4 separate regions of the Homo sapiens genome follow, and all the other regions are linked to region 1. The links come from fine-mapping of genetic effects on gene expression. A gene starts in region 1. Each other region holds a variant in brackets. All regions are shown on one strand. Distances are from middle to middle.

Region 1 (5,154 bases):
CTAATGATGAGATCCAGAAAGATTAGAGACTGTCTCACTAGACAGGAACAGAAAAACATACAACTTCAAAATCACACTAGAGTTGTGGAAACACAGAGTAGCACATGGTCTCATCGAGGTATTGAGAATGAATGAAAAACTGTTCTTTGGCCTGGGGTCACTGCTGACAATGACCATGGCAGAAAGAAACAGAAAGACAACTTAGTGACACCATTTAAGGAAGAATGCAGTTTTCGTGATCCAAGAAATTGTAGTGACCCAGGTTTGAAGTCAGAATGGAGAAGAGACTAAGTTTGCGCCCATTCTGGTACCAACTACCACCTGGAAGCTACCAGGTATAGAACCTTATACAGTATGTCATATATTTTTGAATAATTAACAATTTTTAAGCCCCTCTCCTACCCTCCAGAAAATAAATGTTGGTCCTAGTTATGTGCTTCAGTGCCACACAATCACAGAAAACTAGGATACAATAGCAGCTGAAATGACAGGGATAGGGTGAAGTTTCTAAGATTTCTGGCCAAACTGCTTTCCAAAATTTCTTATTTTTCTGTTCATCCTCAAACCAAACATCACACTTCAGGGGTCACTTCAGAGACAAACATTTCAAGAAATGACAGTAGTAGGAGCAATCTTCAAAATTCCCCCTTAAGGGGAAATATTTAATTTGTACAGCATCTAATTAAATACATATTAAATTTTTAGCACTTTTCTCTTGCCTCTATGCCCAAAGTATTTCAAGATCAGCTTAAAATTCTAAGTGGTGCCACTCTCTGACCATATTCCCATTCATTCAGTTTTCACTTTGCAAAGGGCTTTCTAAAACCTATTTTCATGCTGTGCCTATGCCAATGAACTTAAAGACAGGAAAACAGTCCTCTGGCTTATCTGCCACACCTGTAGGAGCAATAGTGACACCTACTTCCAAAACTACCATACAAACGAAGCTTCTCAAAGTGTCCAAAAGCACATACATTTAAACAAGACCAAGTTCTTTTAAGCATTAAGAAGTGGTTTATCAACACCTGTGAAAAGAAGGGGAAAAAATGGGAAAAAAAAAAGTGGATTAAAATGCCATGATTGAGGTTTGGGAGACAACTGTCCCTAAGACCAAAATAAAGAAACAAGTGGGAACAGCATGTCAAAATCTACTTCCCTAATAAAGAATTACTGCTTTAAAAACTCAGGCAACAAAAATACAAAAAACAAAAACAAAAGAACAAATAAAAACCTCAGGCAGAACAGCACAAACTTGAACATGGAACGAAGTCATCAAACAACTTGCAGTCGAATGCCTGTGCAGAATCCTTTCCTGCCTCAAAGCCTGTAATTCCAACAGTAGTGACAAAAGAACCCTAGAACTCCCCATCTCCAGTCGCGGATGCACACTCTCGAGAGGACCCGGCGGCCAGGCACGCACCCGGGCAGAGATGAGGCTGAGTCACGCACAGGAAGGAACGGGTAGCTGGTGGACAGCAAGTAAGAAGAGAGACAGGAGCAGGGTGGAAGTGAGGGGCGGAGTAGGAGGTGGGAGAGGCAGGAGGCAACTGCTCATTTGGGCTCACGAGGGGCGGGGATCGGCTCTTCTAGGGCAGAAACTGCCAAAATGCAAGTCTTGGCGACTGAGCTCCCTCCGGGATCGGGGGTCGCAACATGGCCACATATATGACAAAAACTGTGTTTCGAAGGACTCTCCACCACGCCCCGGCCCGTCCCTGAGGGCTGGGGCGACCATGGCTCGGGACACCAAGCCCTCAGGCTGCAGCCCGCCCCAGAGAGGCAGAAAGAAGAAAGGGGAAGAGGGGGCTGTGGCCCCGGAGACGGCCCGACCCACATCCCCAGGGATGGGGACAAGGGCCCTGAAAAGCAAGGCCCCACCACCCTCACCCTCCGGCCGTCTGCCGCAGCCCCAAGACGCCCTTAGCCGCTCAGCCGCGGCTTGGCGCTCCGATCCCCTCTGGTACTAGCCCCCAGGACCCCAACACTCTCAACCCATTCCTCCCCCTCACCAGCTGCCGCAGCCACCTCCAACGGCCGCCGCTTTTTGGGCCGACTCTCACCGCCGGGGCTTCCCTCTCTGACCTCATTTCCGGTCTGGGCCGGAGGGGTGGGGCGGTGGCGAGTGGGAGGGGCTGGCTGCACGATTGGGCCCCTGACCCAGTGCTTCCGCCCGTGGCCACACCCACTTCCGCCCCGCGGTGGGCGGAGCCACAGGAAGCCAGGAGATGGGGCAGGGGACAAGGAGGGGTGTTGAATAGGGTCTGGCCGGGAAAGGGCGTCTCAGGGGTTGAGGTGCCCCACGTGGGGAAAGACCCCTGCATGCTGGCCTCATCTTCCTTAGGGGCTTCCAGAAATTGGGCGCTAGGCAGGGATGTCAGCTTATCTCTTGCTTTCTGACCTTTTTAATGGGTCTGTGAAGTTGAGGGGAAATGGATCTTAATGACGTCTACCCTGTGAGCTGGTACAACCTTTGGAAGAGGTTGTTTTGCACTGAGTTACTCAGAACATTTCAAATTGCCTTGAGCAATAAAACAAGTGATATTGGATTATAACTCAAAGTACAAAAGAAATATTCATGAGCCCATGCCGATATAAGTGATTGAATAAATTAACGAATGAGGAAGAAGAGATAAATCCCCCACAGAAGAATCTCAAATAACTTATGTAGACAGCCATCCTGCAGCATAACTTCTGCCTCCTTAAATGTGGGCTGTGCATAGTGACTTCCTTCCCAAAAGTACAACATCTGTAAAGGGGAAAATGAGTGATTTTACAGGGGAGAAACCTGGCAAACAGTAATTCAGCCAGGTGATCAAGACTATGTGCTAAATCATGTTGATAGTATGTGGAATGATATATGATGAGAATGGCACTTTATGGTACTTTCCTTCCAAATCTCATAACCCAGTCTAATTATAAGAAAAAAAAATCAGACAAACCCGAATTGAGGGACATTCTGCAGAGTGCATGACCAGTATTCTTCAAAATTGTTAAGATCAGCAAAGGCAAGGGAAGTCTAAGAAACTCAGAGCCAAGAGGAGCCTAAGGAGGCATGACAATGTAATATGGTGTCCTGGGTGTGACGCTGCAATTGAAAAAAGAACATTAGGTAAAAACTAAGGAAATCTGGATAAAGTATCAACTTTAGTTAATCATAATGTATCGGGCCGGGTGAGGTGGCTCACGCCTGTAATCCCAGCACTTTGGGAGGCCGAGGCAGGCGGATCACCTGAGGTTGGGGGATTGAGACCATCCTGGCTAACAGGGTGAAAACCTGTCTCTGCTAAAAATACAAAAATTACATGGGCATGGTGGCACGTGCCTGTAATCCCAGCTACTCGGGAGGCTGAGGCAGGAGAATCACTTGCACCTGGGAGGCGGAGGTTGCAGTGAGCCAAGATCGCACCATTGCACTCCAGCCTGGTCTACAAGAGTGAAACTCCGTCTCAAAATAATAATAATAATAATAACGTATCAATATTGGTTGCAATTGTGAGATGTGTTATACTTCTGTAAGAGTGAATAGCCTGGTGTGGTGGCTCACACCTGTAATTCCAGCACTTTGGGAGGTTGAGGTGGGCGGATCACCTGAGGTCAGGATTTCGAGATCAGCCTGGCCAACATGGTGAAACCCCGTCTCTACTAAAAATACAAAAAATTAGCCAGGTGTGGTGGCACATGCCTGTAGTCCCAGTCCCTACTCAGGAGGCTAAGGCAAGAGCATCGCCTGAGCCCAGGAGGCGGAGGTTGCAGTGAGCAGAGATCGAGCCACTGCACTCCAGCCTGGGCGACAGAGTGAGACTCAGCCGTCACAAAAAAAAAAAAAAAAAGTGAATAATAGGAGAAAGTGTGAATTACACAGAAACTGTAACAATCTTCATAATTTTTATCTAAACCCAAAATTATCCTAAAATAAAAAAGTTTATTTAAAAATATGCACATACCTTGGACCCTGAAATTTTGCCCCAAAGAATTGTATTCTAAGGAAAAATTGGAAATGGGCGCAAAAATGTTAAATATAGGTAAATCATCTCTGCAGCATTTCTGAGGGAGAGATGAGGAAACTAGAAAAAGCCAGAAGTTCTACAACAGGGGTTAGTTAACTAAATTATGGTACATCTATGGGTGGAATATCTTGCAACTTTTAAAAATTAATGTTGCAAAAGAATATTTAATGACATGAAAAGCCATCGACTTATGATTGTGTACATTTCTGCATGACTGTTATACTTCAATAAAAAGATTACTCTAAAAATGTAGAGTATGATTCCCATACAAAGGAAATTAAATCTATACTCGCAAAGGAATATGACCAGAAGAAGCCACCATACAATATCCGAAATGGTTTCATTATCAATGATTATATCTCCTATCTATTGTTTTTTGTGGATTTTCAGAATGTTCTATAGGTGAAAAAAAGTCAAGGTAGGAGACAAAGATAGCTGAGGTTTTGAGCTAGGGCAACTAAGACAATGGTCAGTGCCATCTGCACAGCTAGAGAAGTCAAGAAGATAAACGGGTTTAGTGGAAAGATGATTAATTCCATTTTGGACATGCTGAATCTGTGACTCCCACAGGACAGAAATATGGAAATGTTCAACAGGTGTCCACAGCCTTAGGCCTCTTTTCTGCATAAGTGAAAATTCTCTCCCACAAATCACATCTGTTCCCACGGTGTTGATTGCCTGCATCAGCACTGAAAGCTCCCAAATTTCTTGAAATCCAACTTATATTTTCATTTTTCTACTAGATAGCTCCACTTGTTCACCTCACCAGCATTTCCAATTTAAAATGTCAAAAATAGGCCAGGCGTAGTGGCTCACGCCTGTAATCCCAGCACTTTGGGAGGCTGAGGCGGGTGGATCACTTCAGGTCAGGAGTTTGAGACTAGCCTGGCCAACATGGTGAAACCCCGTCCCTACTAAAAATACAAAAAATTAGGCAAGTGTGGTGGTGGGCGCCTGTAATCCTAGCTACTGGAAAGGCTGAGGCAAGAGGATCACTTCATTCCAGGAGGCAGAGGTTGTAGTGAGCTGAGAGCACACTGCTGCACTCCAGCCTGGTGACAGGAGTGAAACCGTGTCTCAAAAATAAATAAGTAAATATAATAAAATGTCAAAAATAAAGCTTAGTTTCTTCCACAGTTTCTTTCTT
Region 2 (5,154 bases), 110 kb before region 1:
ATTTGTAATACAGATACTGTGTTTTCATTAAGTGTGGAAACATGGCTTTGAAAATGAGCCAGATGAGAAACGGAATTAACATGCTCTTAGGAAAATGAAGCTGCTGGCCCGTACTCCGCATGAACAGAAGGACGGCTGTGGGACCTCTAGAAAACAGCGGTGTTCCTCCAACGACAGTTCTAGAATTCCTCTAAGACGAGCACAGGAAGGTGGAGGTTCCAAGGTGGACGGTTAGAGTGGACATCTGGGATTTATCTGCCAGACAGTTATTCTCTTTCCTCTGGTAAGAAGCTCTAATTTTCCTTGAAGACCTCCTCTTTTCTTTCTATCAATGTTGGTAGAGTGGGGCTGACCGCCCCCGGCCCCGGCTCCCCGACATGCCCCCTCCCCCGCCCGCCGGGGCACGTGACCAGCTCTGGCCAATCAGCTTGCTGTGTTCTCCGGGCCACAACGATCCGCGCAGGAGGAGCGTGAGGTCTCAGGAACTTAAAGAGAATGAACCCTGGGGATTTTGTTGAAACTATTTGTAAAGACAGCCAACTGCTACCATTTACGTTTCCCCTGGGGTTGTTAGGCTGAATGGACGCGGACCTGGGGCTGCTGAAAACCCTGTTGTCTCCAGGAGGGGAGCAGTTTCCTGGAAATGAAACTCGTCCAGAGGAACGTAGGGCCTAGAGGTAAACGGGGCTCTTTCAGCCCCCGCTGGCTCATGGTAAATCCCAACTACATTTCAGGATTGGGGAATAAAAATGAAGAGCTGGAATAAGAAGAAAGAAAGTAGGGGCACTGGGCACCACGTGGCCCCTATGTTTTCCCTCTCCAGCATAATTCAACTCCTCTTGGCTATGAATATCTGTAGAAGCCCCACGTCTCCATTATGCCTCTGGCTGGCGGGAGGTTTTGTTTGTTTGTTTGTTTTAACCAGACTCCTTGGCATTCAGAGAGAACATTCAGGAAATGTATTGTGGAGGCAGACCATTAAAAACATGCACCTGGGCCGGGCGTGGTGGCTCACGCCTGTAATCTCAGCACTTTGGGAGGCCAAGGCGGAAGGATGGCTTGAGCTTCGGAGTTTGAGACCAGCCTGAGCAACATAGTGAGACCCCCATCTCTATTAAAAAATACAAAAATTAGCCCGGCATGGTGGTGCGTGCCTGTAGTCCCAGCTACTTGGGAGGCTGAGGCACGAGAATCACTTGAATCCAGTAGGTGGAGGTTGCAGTGAGCCAAGATTGTGCCACTGTACTCCCCCCTGCGCAACAGAGCAAGACTGTCTCAAAACAACAAACAACAGAATAAAACCATGCACCTGGTACAAGGAGTGAAGTTAACATCTCAAAAACCCTCAAACCCTGTAATTTTCCTGGTAGCTAAGATGCTTGATATCTCTTGGTATCTCTCTCTCCCTTTCCTTTCCTTTCCTTTCCTTTCCTTTCCTTTCCTTTCCTTTCCTTTCCTTTCCTTTCCTTTCCTTTCCTTTCCTTTCCTTTCCCTTCCCCTCCCCTCCCCTCCCCTCCCCTCCCCTCCCTTCCCCTCCCCTCCCCTCCGCTCCCCTCCCCTCCCCTCTCCTTTCCTCCCTCCCTTCCCTTTTGAGACGGAGTCTTGCTTTGTCGCCCAGGCTGGAGTGCAACGGCAAGATCTCGGTTCACTGCAACCTCAGCCTCCCAGGTTCAAGCGATTCTCCTGCCTCAGCCTCTCGAGTAACTGGGATTACAGGCACTCACCACCACACCCAGCTAATTTTTGTATTTTTAGTAGAGACAAGGTTTCACCATGTTAGCCAGGCCGGTTTCAAACTCCTGATCTCAGGTGATCCACCCGCCTCGGCCCCCCAAAGTGCTGGGATTACAGGCGTGAGCCACCGTACCCAGCCCTCTCCTCTCTTTCTAAATCAAGACACTTCTACTACCACAAAAACAAAAACAAACAAAAAGACAGGAGCAGTAGTAATGACTGCCAACTGCTACCATTTACATTTCTTGAGTGCTCACTGTGAATCAGGCCCCTAATTCTCACAGTGAGCCTGTGAAGTAGGTATCATCCTCCCCATTTTATAGATGAAGAAACAGACTCAATAGTTAAGTAATTTCCCAAAGCTAGGAAGTGGTATAATGGAGATTTTTTAAATAGCTTTATTGAGGTATAATTTACACATCATAAAATGTAGCCATTGTAAGTGTATTCCAATGATTTTTAGTGAGTTTACAAAGCTGTGCAACCCTTGCCACCATCTAGTTCTAGAACATTCCCATCATCTTAAAAAGATCTTTTGTCTATTTGTAGTCTCTCCTTGTCCTCCTTCTCTAGCCGCAGGCAGCCACTAATCTACTTTCTGTATTGATATGGTTTGGATCTGTGTCCTGTCCAAATCTCATGTCGAATTGTAATCCCCAACATTGGAAGTGGGGTCTGGTGGGAGGTGATTGGATCACGGGGGTGAATTTCCCTTGGGTGCTGTTCTCTTGATAGTGAGTGAGTTGTCATGAGATCTGGTCATTTAAAAGTGTGTGGCACCTGCCCCTTCTCTGTCTCTTCCTCCTGCTTCCCCTTCACCTTCCACCATGACTGAAAATTTCCTGAGGCCTCCCCAGAAGTCACTACACTTCCTATACAGCCTGCAGAGCTGTGAGCCAGTTAAACCTCTTTTCTTTATAAATTACACAGTCTCGGATATTTCTTTATAGCAATTTAAGAATGGACTAATACATGTATCTATAGATTTGCCTTTTTGGATATTTCATATAAATGGAAGCATACAACATGTATCTGCGTGGTTTGCATCTGACTCCTTTCACTTAGTTCATAAAGTTTTGAAGTTCATCCATGCTGTAGCAGGTATCCGCACTTCATTCCTGTTTATGGGTACATAGTAGTCCATTGTATGGACATGCGACATTGTATTTATGCATTCATTAGTTGATGGACATTTGGGTTATTTCCACTTTTTGGCTATTATGAATAACGCTGCCATGAACATTTGCATACATGTCTTTGTGTGGACAGAAGTTTTCATTTCTCTT[C/G]GGTATACACCCAGCAGTGAATTGCTGGGTCATAGTTAGAATTTCAGCCCTGGTCTGACCCCAAAGCCTCAACTCACTACCTTTTGTTCACTCCCTTCCTCATCCCTTAAGGTCAGTCTCCAGCAGCTCAAACCCTTAGCCAGGACATTCCCTTCCACTCCTCACTCTACCCCTACCTAGGGAAATATTGTCGTTTCCACCAAGTGACACACTGAGAAGATGAATGCCAGTGATGGGTCCATGGAAGAAAACTACCCTCTTTAAAGGCACAGGCAGGGAGAAGAGGGACTGCAGCAGAGGCACCTGGGGTCCCAGCTGCTTTCAGCAGCAGCTTCAGGCTCCTAGGATGTCCCAGCACAGATGCCACTTGTCCTCTGGCCTCCACCCTGGTCAAGAAGTAGAGTGATGACAGGTTCCTCTCACCACGTAGCTTCCTCTATGCCTTCCAAATGGAAGTGACACTTTGAGGCTGGCAAAAAACGTTGGGGTGGTTGGAGGGGATAGAATGGGGGAGATGACAGACACCTGCTGTCAAGGGCTGTCACAACAGAACTGACGGTAGCCATGCCTCCTCAGGTCAGGTTCGGAGCCAACACTGCTGCTTTCCCCACACAGCGACCAGCTCTCAATGGAGTCTTTGATGAGCAGCCCGCATTTGGCATCGTGGTGTCTGGCCTGCAGGGAGGACCCGGGGGATGTAAGCTCTGGGAGAGACCAGCATGGGTGCTGGGGCAGAGGCAGAGAGGGAGCTGCAGAAGAGAATTGTCTGTCTTTCCACCAGACTGTAAGCTTCTTGAGGGCAGGGACTGTGTCTGCCTACCATACTACAGGAGCAGCACAGCGTCTGGCACATGGCATAGCAGCTGCTTAGGAAATACTGGTGGAGCAAAAGAATGGGTGAAGAAATGAACAATTATTGGAACAGCTTCATCAGAGGCAAGTTGCAGAAGTTCAGTGGTGGAGGTGGCTATTAACCAAATAATTATGGCCATCTTCTAGATAGTTGGAGATGTTCTAGCCTCTGGGTAGGATGTTTCTTCAGGGCACATGTAAAATGAGAAGAGTGAGGTGGAAGGATCTTCTCTGCTCACAGCCCCTGAAGTGAAAATAGCAGTGCAGCCTGGGGCACCACCAAAATGCAGGCCTCTCTGCTGCTCCTGCTGCCACTGTTTGGCCTGGGTGGCTTGAGCACCTACCAGCCCTCACCTTTCCTCCATCCTCCCTCCTCTGCCTGTCCTTAGCCAGCAGCAGCCGGACCACCTGTACGGGAGCAGCCAGCATGTGGCAGAGGAGGTTTCATGCCACCTCTTGCCATCAGGGAAGACCTGCCTTGAGAAGCTGCTCACTGAGGGCCCTGGGAGATGCTAATGACCATAAAGAGTCATCCAGATGCAGAGGTGATGACAGTCTGTTGCCCTCTGTCTGCCACTGCATTTTAGAATAACCTTCCCTTCCTACGAATCCAGATCTAAAAGGTGCGGCAGTGTTTTAAGGCTTCCTTTAGAACTTCTAGCTATAAACCCCAGATCTGAATCAGACCACAATGCAATTACAGGGCCTCTCTGAACCTCAGTTTCTTCATATGCGTAATGGGAACAATAATACCTACTATACCCAGTTGTTGTGAAGGTTAAATGGGTTGACATAGGTGATGTGCCAGGCATAATGCCCAACTGTATGAACACCTGCCCTTCCATGCCATGCAAGGCTGACCTTTCTCCAGGATCTGAGACAATGATACTCACTCACTCAACACTCATACTTCCACCCCACCATAGCCTCACCCCAACATAGAACCTACAACCCATTCTCCTTGGCATTTATGCCTCTCCCAAAACTCAGTCACTGTGCATCCATTGCCTGGTATTTTTGCTTTATTTCTGGAACCCCATCCCTTTCCCACATTTAGTGTCAGGTGCCAGTGCGGTTTACAACACCAATGCTTGCAACTCCTTCATGCTGATGCTGTAAATCCAAACTTCATCTCTCCCCAGGAGCATCTTCCAATCAGCCTTGGCCATCACATGGTCATTACTATTTCTGCAGTTTCTCAGGAGCATTGCATGATGCTACACTAACAGTCATTAATGAGAGGAATACGTCTTTGTGAAGTCGGCAGGCAGCTCTCCCAGAA
Region 3 (5,154 bases), 61 kb before region 1:
CCAGAGAGCTAACTAGTTCCCTTCACCATGTGAGGACACAATTAGAAGGTGCCATCTATGAACCTGAAGGCAAGCTCTCACCAGACATTGAATCAGCCAGCACCCTGATCTTGGACTTCCCAGACTGTGAAACCATAAGAAATAAATTTCTGTTGTTTATTTTTTTAAAAAAATTAGGTAAGGTAGCAAGATATATTAGCATACAAAATCAGTAGCTTTTATATAGAGAGCAATAACCAGTTAGAAGACATAATGGCAGAGGAAATCTCATTTACTAGCAAATAAATTAAATACTTAGGGATAAGCTTAGCAAGAAATGCACAAAACCTACACAAGGATAATTTTAAAACACTGCTAAAAGGCACAAAATAGACTTGAATAAATGGAAATACATCTCCTATTCTTGGATAGGATGACACCACATTTTAAAGATGTTAGTTCTCTCTAAATCAGTTAATATCATATAATATCAATAAAATACCAATGTACCTTAAAAAATGAATTTAGACAAGTTGATACTAAAGTTCACATGGAAAAACAAACATGTATGAATAGCCAGAAGCACAATAGGAAAAATTATAAGGGGGACTAGCCTTGCCAGTTGTTAAAACATACTATAAAGTCTCTATAATTAAAACAGTGTGGTACCATGCACAAGTAGACCAGTGGAACAGAAAACCCAGAAAGACCCAAGTACATATGGATCCTGGATTGAATACCGAACCAGAAAAACAACATTACTGGGAAAACAGCTACAATTCAAATAAAGTATGTAGTTAATAGGATTGTGCCAATGTTAATTTCCTAGTTTCAATAATTGTACCATTGGTATGTAAGTTAACATTAGAAGAAGCTGAGAGAAGGGCACACAGGAAATCTATTTTTGCAGATTTTCTGTTAAGTCTAAAATTATTTTTTTTAAAAAAGGTTTTGGATCAAGAGCCCCTGAGAATGTGAAGAGGGGGCTCTGTGTCAGGCTAACATGGAACACCAGAGGGAATAAATCGCCACTGCTCACATTCCCTGAGCTGGCCTCACTTTATCTCTGGCTGGTGAGCTTTTGCTTGGATTCTATAAAATACACGTCTTTACAATAAATTCCATTCCATGCTTTAAAATGTAAAATAAAAAATTGGTGTTACAAAAAGTTTCTGTTAATTCTCCAAATGCATTTCTTTGTTTTCATTGGGTCTTTAAAAGTATTTAGTCTGTCATGCTAATTGAAATACTTACTTCATTTCTTCTATGACAATTGTTATATTAGATTTCTTTTGATGTCATTTTTTGGCAAACTATACCTTCCTGGAAAATTATCCATTTAATCCAAGTTTTTAAATTGTTTGCATACAGTTGAGCAAAGAATATTTTATGACTCTTACCTATTCAATACTTGGTAATTCTTATTTTGTGTTTGTCTTCTCTTGTAATGTTAGCTAAAATGTTACATATTTTACTACATATTTTAAAAATTAGCTTTGTTTCCTCATTTTTCTAATTAATTTTTCTTGATTCTTTTAGCCTGCCTTTAAAAGATTCCTTTTCCTAATATTTTGAGTTATATGACATTTATCTTATTTTTTAATACATAAATTTTAGGGCAATGAATTTTCCTCTGAGCACTGTTTTATTTGTATCTCAGAGGAACAAGTTTATATTTTAGATATGAAATGTTTTTTTAATACTTTGCATTTCCTAATCAACCCAAGAATAGTTGAAGAGCTTAAAAACATTTTGGATTGCAGATGAGCAGTGTTTTCTGGCTTTAATTTATTGCATTTTTTTTTCTGACCACCTATCCTCAAATTCTAAGTTTATTGCATTTTTATCAGCAAATGCCATCTGTTGTTCCTTTTTTCCGTTCTGAAACTTATGTTTTCTGTACGCTCTAATACACAGTCAAATGGGGAAATGTTTCATGGATACTTTGAAGTGTAGTTACCACTTTTAGGGTAAAGTCTAATATGCATCAACTAGATCTTCTGTATCTTATTTAAATCATCCCATGTCCTAGTTTTTTATCCACTTGATCTGTCATGAATTGACAGAATTGAATTAAAATATCCAACTAACATTGTATTTGTTTCTTCCTGTGTCTCCTATGGTTTCCAATACATAAATGGTTTTCCATTATTTGGTACACAGATATCTAGAAACATTATCTCGTGAGTCACACCCTTTAGCATTATGTCGTGGTTTTTTTTG[G/T]TTTTTTTTTTTCCGGTTCCTTTTCCCTAAGTTCAACCTTGCCTGATATGCAGACTACAACTCATTTTCTTGTTTGTGTTTGCTTGGTTTACTTTTGCTCAACCTTTCTGAATCTTATAACATGAAATTAGTGTTTGCTGACATTTTTGCCTTTTATCTACAGATAAGTTTACTTTTATTAATATGACAGGTACATTTGTTCCTATTCTATGGTTTTAGACATCTTTCATTTTTGTGATTTGTTTGGTTGTGCATACATGTTTTTTCTCATAATTAGCAGTCTGAATTTTTCTTCTAGTGATAATCTCTTTAATCATATTTTCATATGATCCCCATAATCCTCTATTTCACTAGTCAATATACCTTAATTCTCTACTATGAGCAATGAAAAATTAGTAATTTACCTGTCCTCCCTATACTATTTTAATAATGGAACATAAGTCACTTTCTTATTTCTATGTACAAAAGCTAGACTGCATCGCCTAATTTAAAATGCTGGTCAGTCAGAAGCTGTTCAGGAAAAATGTTGGCCCAAAACTCATAATTATTTCACTTTTATGCAGTTTCAAAAGATTTAGCTAACTTTATTTATAGCACGGTATTAATGAGACCAAAATCATGGGATCAGAACTTAGTGTGAGCCAGCAGATTGGTTTTATCCCATGGGCACTTCCTGTAGGCTTAAAATATCAATGATTGCTAAGGTGTTCAGTCCAAAAGGTGTAAATAGATCAACACAAATTTATTGTCACTACTGAGAAACAAAGCCCAAAAAACTTAACTGGTAGTTGAACAACTTTGACACTGAAGAACAGTACAAGGAACTAAGACCATCACATTGTGCATTAAACTCTACTAAGTCGGTGGTTCAAGGGGAATAACCTCAGACTGGTATCATGCTAGAACATGTAATGGAATCAGTCAGCCATGATTCCAAATACACCATTACTTCCAATTCAGTTTAACCTAGTTTTAACATGTCAGTAGCTCCTACCAATAAGTGGGCCTAGCTATATTTCCCACGGAAGGTGATCAAGGCAATGCAAATCTGTTCACATCTCAGTTCCAGCTTTGTATGCACAATGGGCCAGTTGCAGTAGGGTTTCCACGAATGCACCCTGAGCTTAGCAGAGGAATACGGCAATAGTTCTCCAACTCAACAAGTAAGCCAGTATACACAGGACCCTTCACTTCCTGGCTCTTGCCTTTCTCTCTTTGTTCCTCTGTAAGCTTTACATGTGGGCCATACTAAAACACTTGCAGTGCTCTGAATAAACCATGCTTTTACCCTTGGAGGGCTTCATCCACTCTTCTTAACTCCTGCTTATCCTTCAGGATTTCTTTCAATGTTTTTTTTTACTTCTTCCACTGCCCAGTTTGAGTTAAAGTGCCCTCCTCCTTGCTGCCAAAATACCCTGTCATTCTTATTTCATTCTACATTGTAATACTTTTTTTCTGGTCTCTTCCGCAGAAGACCATGAACATCATGAGAGCAGGAATGCCTTTCTTCTCTGTATACCCAGCTCCTAGCAGAGTGCTTGGCATAAGATGTGTTCCATACACATCTAATGAATGAAGGGGCATTTCTAAAAGCCAAGACTGTTAAGGCAGCTTTTGCTAACAGTCAAAAGAAATGTTTACCAAGGTGTTGAAAACAGTCTATCACTAACATTAACATCTCAGAACACATATCCCCCTCACTTAGGAATCAGTTGTGCCTTGGTACAGAAAGGATAATACCTTCTTATTGCCACAGGTTTGCAAGATCTGCAAAATTTCATTGACTTTTCTCTTGCTCTGGTCACTCTCAAGAACAAAACTAGGTTGTTATAAGAGGATGTCACAGAAACCGGCTATCTCCTTTCAATCATGTACGCACAGAGAAGGGATGAGCCCATTCACAGTTGCCTGGTAGAGAAACAGCCCACCAGGACAAACAAGTCAATAAAGAGGTCTCATCAGACACTGGCCCATGGCCCAGTGGCCCACAGCTTATGCATATGTACATGCCCTCCAACAGTTCAGTTTGTAAAAAGAGGCAGCAGAGGTATTGATTGGGAACAGACACTCTTTAACATCAGACTTGAATCTGAATCTTGACTGACACTTAATAGATATGTGACTCGAGCAAGTTTGTCTGTAACTGTAAGTGTATTTCATTGTTTTAAAATGGAGATAAAAGTACCTACCTTTAGAGTTGTTGAATAAGTGAGATGTTGCTTCCAAATGGCAGACCACCAAATACATATTTGCCATTATTATTATTAGGTACTCTGGACAGGGGCCTAATAGTTTCAAGGATAGTATATCTAAGGAGCCCAGGAGTATCCTGCTTTAGGGCAGTTACCCTCTTCCCTAAGAGGTCCCTGAGGAGGACTTCGCTTCATCAGTGTTCAGTAAATGTTTGTTCAATCAGTGACTGGGGCAATGGTTCTGGTGGACCTTTGTTATTCTTATTGGCTGTCCAGCATCTGAAGTACCTTCCCATGTGTGAGGAAGCTCAACTTTCCAGATAACCTCATTCTGACTTCCTAGCCAGGACACAGGCATATGACTACTAATCAGATCCACCTACCCCATATTTTGAATCAGAAACTAGTGATTCAAAGACATCAGGAACACACAGGGTCACATCTGATGAAAGTGGAACCCCAAGTTTCACTGTATTCATAGGGCTAGTGCTGATGCCCCAATAAAAAGTTCTTTGATAAAAATCAACATGAAGTTCAAGGCCAAAAAGGCTTGAGGAAGCCAAATTAAAAAATTAACCAGCAGCAGAAAGCCACAGATTAAAGACAGCATTAGGTGGAGGAGCCCCTTTTGGGCACAGGCCCCCTTACCAGTCCAAGACCCGGAAGAGGAGAAAGCAGAAGAGGGAACACAGTCCAGGCCATCTTTTCATAAATAGCAACTCATAAGTAAACAGGAGTGACCCACCTTAGAATCTCACTA
Region 4 (5,154 bases), 52 kb before region 1:
AGAAGATTTATTTCAGCTTTTGGCCATTTTGCTACAAAAATAGCCTTGTTAGTACCCTATTTCATAGCCCAGCAATGTCCTCTTCAATTCTGAATCGCATTTGATTTCTAAACAATTCAAGGCTAAATGTGGCCTATTTTCCAACCACATACCACTCAGTAAAAATTATACTCAGCCCCCTCCAAATCTGGTACCAGGTAAACAAGCTACTAATTTCTTTTTATTATTTCTTACCAAGAGGCAACACAAGGCTGGGCATGGTGGCTCGCACCTATTATTACAACACCTGGGGAGGCTGAGGCAGGAAGATTGCTTGAGGTTAGGAGTTCAAGACCAGCATAGGCAACAGAGCAAGACCCCATCTCTCCAAAAACTTAAAAAATTAGCCAGGCATGGTGGCACACTTCCATAGTCCTCACAACTCAGGAGGCTGAGGCAGGAGGATGGCTTGAGCTTATGAGTTCAAGGTTACAGTGAGCTATGAACACATCACTGCACTCTAACCTGAGTGACAGATCAAGAACCTGTCTCTAGGAAACAACAACAACAACAACAACAACAAAAGGCAACACAGGAGTTTTGTTCCTTTAAAATACTGCATCTGAAAAAAATCTAAAATTCCTTTAAACTCGTAATTAAAACTAACTTTTTATTATGATCCTCACAGAAGCAGATAATGTTCTGACTTCTGCCCATCGTGGAAAACACACTAAACTAGGATTCAGACAGGCCATTTGTGTAGCCAGCTGGGAAAAATCAGAACCCTGAAATAAATAACAACTGTTTAACTCAGCTTTAGTTATTACTTTTGAGCAGATCAAATACATGAGCTCAAGGATCATCCTCAAAGTAAGTCATAGTTCAGAGTTTTTTCAACACTGATTACAAAACCTCATTTTTGAAACTACGTAACTTCTTTGAAAGATAACAGATTTTTCTTAACTTACGACATTATACACTGTGCCGCATATAAAGAAACTTTAAGATTCAAAATACACTCATTTCTAAGGCTATCCTCTGGAACTGGTTAATACAGAAAGCAAGCAGAATACACTGATTAATAATTCCTTAAACATGCACGTACAGCACCTTAAAATGAGGAGCACAATTTACAACCCTGTGTTGGAAAGTATTTGTGTGCTTAATATTCTGTTCTCTCAGGCAACTAATTTTCTCCCCATTTATTACAGGTAGATGTTGCATTCTTGGGTAATCCCTGTTGAAAGTATTCAAAATGTGTAGAAAAGCATGCCCAAGAAAGATAATAAATATTCATGGTATACTGTTTCATAAATAAGCATCTCAGACTGACTCAGGTCTATCACTGAAAAACAAGAGATTATAACCCAGGGCAGAGAAAATCTGAAAGTCTGGGATTCTAGTCCTGGCTTAGTTATGTGATTTGGAGCAAGTCACTCAACTCTGTGGCTGTTTTCATCTCCTTAAAATGGCATGACTTCGTAGAGATGTTTGAAATGTAAATAATGTTGTATATAAAAATTATTTTTAATCATAGGTAGAAAGGCAGACTATTAGGAAACAAGTTATATAGAAAAAATGTGGGAACACCTTGGCCACCTGACCTTTGGAGGTTTTCACTAATAGGCCATGATCATGGGACCAATCACTGCATGAGTCATAGAGCTTGACACAAACAAAAAATTACGTCCACAGATTTCTCTCAAACCCAACCAAGTATGTTAAAAATATATGCCACGGGTCACTATGGTGACAATGCACATGACAACAAAATCTAACCTCATCACTAGAACAATTCAGTGGTACGATTTTATATTCAACAGACATTACATTTTCTATACTTCTACGGGTGCAGCCCACAGGGAAGGGAAGTGCAGCCTGGGAAGTCCCTGTAAGCACACACACTGCTGCATGAGAGCCAGGGGTGACTCAGAGGCATGCTGGGCCAGCTTCAGCACTCTCCCATCCCATCATCTCCACTCCTGTAAGCACACACACTGCTGCATGAGAACCAGAGGCAACTAAGAGGCATGCTGGGCCGGCTTCAGCACTCTCCCACACTACTGCATGAGAACCAGGGGTGGAACATCCCTGTGAGCACACACACACTGCTGCGTGAGAACCAGAGGCGACTCACAGGTCTGCTGGGCTGGTTTCAGCACTTTCCCGTCCCATCATCTACACCTGCTCTCCCTCTACCATATTCCTGATTATGAACAATTGATATGTTCTCAGTCTTAAAGTGCCATGTAAACTTAGCTTCAAGTCCCCTTTTCCAACTAGATTCATGCCCACCCACCTCCCTTTGATAAAGAAATCTGGAGTTTCCATTGATAAGGACTATAATTTTAAAAGCAACCCGTCATTACACTTCGTATGGGAAACAGGGGCAATCGCACTTTGGGGGAAGGAGGTGCTGCCCCATTCAGCACCTATTTAAGACAGAAAATAAGCAGATGCATGAGTGGGAGTCCCTCTACAATGTGACCAGAGCAGGGAGCACTTCACCAAGAGCTTCTATGTATTTCAGAGTAAACGCACTCATTGGTATAAAAAAAAGAGCCCTTCTGTCAGCTAGGCCCCTGAATGAATGACAGACACTCCTGATAATATTTTCTAGAAAGCGTGGCTTCTCTCCAGCAGCTCCAGGCCATCACTTATTTCTCATTTTGACAAAGTAGCATCCAACTTCAGGCACGACTGTATATATAACTCCACATGCAGCTGAGCCATCATAAACACGCCAAGTATAAAGGCATGTCAAAAAGACATTTTACTTCCCCAAAGCATGGCCCCAAGAAGCCATTATTATAATAGAGTATGAATTTCTGCTGCAGGTTATTAGCCTATAATACTAACAATAAAGTCCTGCTTAGGACATAAAGGCTTACACTGGGACATGAAGTAGTAAGACACAATCCACTGACTATTTTAAATTTGCTGTACACCTAAACCATCTTCTCCATTATACCAATCT[G/C]TGTGTGTGTGTGTGTGTGTGTGTGTATACACACGTCCTCTTTCAGTAGAACATAAACTCTGAAGATGAGGTAAAATACAATACAGCTGCTGCTGCTGATGAGCTGTCTGAGTTTCTGCAGACAATCTGCAAAAAAATGGAAGTTCTCAAGGCCCAGTTGCTGGTGTCTCTTTTGAGGCCCCAAAACTTGGTTGATTTATCTTATTGGCACTCTGCATGAATCAAGAGTAGGCTCAAAGGCAAGCCTTATCTCCTGCGAACACAATTCCATACAGGTCTCAACTCAATATTTAAATTTGTTTGGAACTGGCTACAAATTTGGAACTTCCTCAAATGATATTAAAAGCTCTACACAAAAGGTATGCAGAAGCAGTTACTGGTTTTTCAAGAACAAAGACAACTGCAAAAAAGCAACAGTTCTGTAAATGGAGCTGTAGTAAATGTTGAGACAGCAATAACAAGGTAACAAATAGAGCAGAGGATGACCTTTTTGTAAAAAATTGCTGCCTCAATATTTCACTATTTAAAAAAAAGATTCCCACAACATGATCTTCTGAGAGAAAGAATCCACTGCTGTGTTTGAAAGAGGAGTTGGTTCTGGTGGTGAAAGGACTGGGAATGTCGATTAAGATATGCAAGACTATCTAACACAAAGTCCAACATTTGCTTCAGCAACACCCAGTCAGCTCCTGGAGGGTGAAGTCCTGCTCTCTAGCTGTATCCAGGGCTCTTTTCTTGTGGCATTTTAAAAAATGTAGCAGTAGTTGCGTCTGTGGCTTTCTCTGCTGCAGAGGTCCTCACCAACCACTCAGAGCTGGGTGATTTGGGGGCTTGTGATGCTGGTGTGGTTGGCTCCACTGCATCCATGTGAACTAGTAAGGTTACAACAGAGAGGAGCAAAACATCAAGGGGAGATAAATTAGAATAAGACAAATTAGAATGAGAGATACTTAGAAAAAAAATTTTCTTAATCCTTATACTTCATGTCCTAGTAACCCAAGTGGCCACGTAAGGTATCTCTTTCTTCTCTACAAAAAAGTAAAGACAAGATTTAAATAAGATAGTATTTCCTAATCTGAGAAAATGGGTTCAACTGAACAAATAAATTCAGTAGCACGCATTCATAATGTAGTAAAAATCACTTATTACGTACTTATGTGTGTATTGCTTAAACAATGAATACTCATGATCTTGTTAATGCAAACCCTTACTCATAGATGCTCATAGAGATGACTCATAGTGATCTCCACTTTCTAGATCAGGGAGCTAAGGTATACAGAGATCAGATAAATTGTTCAGGGATAAAACAGAGCTGGTTAAATATCAAGATTCAAGCACACATACTGGACTCTAAACCCCACGCTCTTCCTGCCACAACCCATGCCTCCGATAGGGCAGTGTTACCAATAAATATATACCATACAACAAGGAAAATGGTAGAAAAAGAGCACAATCAGGCCCAATATTTTTCAATAAGATCACTAAAGACATTCTGGACAGGAGACATGGCTTGTGCAGGGCTGTCTTGTATACTTCAGAACACTTACCGATCTGGATCCTATCTGCTGAATGCCAGGAACACTCCCCAGTCATTGTGACAAACAAACATTTACTTCACATTTCCAAATGCCCCTGAGTGGAGTGGCACAAACCACCATCATCTCTACCCACTCTGCTGAGAACAAATATATACTAAAATATGGCAAAATCTAGGGAAGTTTGGATTTTACCGTCACCCAATAATTCCAGTCCCAGAAACGTAACCTAAAACAGTAATTTTCAAATTGTGGATCACAAAATCAATTTAGTGGGTCATGGCCATTACTTTTTTTACTCAATGAAAAAAATAGAAAGTATCGGCATGTACCCAAGATTTATTTCAGATTTACATGTACAACCAACGCACATATTCAAACATGAATTTCTTATTGTGGGCTAATGTAAAAATATCTTGAAAGCTGTTACTCTATATACAAGAGTTTCTTGAGGGCAACAGCTTTCAAACATTTTGGAACGTCACCACAGCAGCAGGAAATACATTTGACAACTCAAATCTCTCTCTTTTTCTCTCTCATACACACACACTCACAACAAACTCAGGCACATATACTCACTCATATTTAACTGGTAATAAATTTCAAAAAACTGTACCTACATGGTCACCAAACTGCAGTGAAAAAAGCACTACCCTAGAAAAA

The links. PIP is the estimated chance that this variant, and not a neighbour inherited with it, causes the effect.
Region 2: its variant is fine-mapped to the expression of GPATCH2L in lung (TOPMed, PIP above 0.99).
Region 3: its variant is fine-mapped to the expression of GPATCH2L in whole blood (INTERVAL, PIP above 0.99).
Region 4: its variant is fine-mapped to the expression of GPATCH2L in whole blood (INTERVAL, PIP above 0.99).

Annotation. Positions count from the first base shown.
Region 1 is chr14:76,148,847-76,154,000 of GRCh38, reverse strand. GPATCH2L (G-patch domain containing 2 like) reads right to left here and starts at 2,079. Exons shown (of 10, transcript NM_017926.4): 1 at 2,010-2,079.
Region 2 is chr14:76,263,226-76,268,379 of GRCh38, reverse strand. The region is part of intron 2 of LOC105370575 (a long non-coding RNA gene); the gene reads left to right. Among named protein-coding and RNA genes, the nearest start is that of ESRRB, 110 kb to the left of the region's middle. RefSeq lists an enhancer at 360-654. The variant C/G (reference allele first, on the strand shown) is at 3,021.
Region 3 is chr14:76,209,462-76,214,615 of GRCh38, reverse strand. GPATCH2L (G-patch domain containing 2 like) reads right to left here. Exons shown (of 10, transcript NM_017926.4): 10 at 273-5,154. Among named protein-coding and RNA genes, the nearest start is that of GPATCH2L, 60 kb to the right of the region's middle. The variant G/T (reference allele first, on the strand shown) is at 2,203.
Region 4 is chr14:76,200,365-76,205,518 of GRCh38, reverse strand. It overlaps GPATCH2L (G-patch domain containing 2 like), which reads right to left. Exons shown (of 10, transcript NM_017926.4): 10 at 1-3,828. The coding sequence ends at 3,668. Among named protein-coding and RNA genes, the nearest start is that of GPATCH2L, 51 kb to the right of the region's middle. RefSeq lists an enhancer at 1,796-2,225. The variant G/C (reference allele first, on the strand shown) is at 2,957.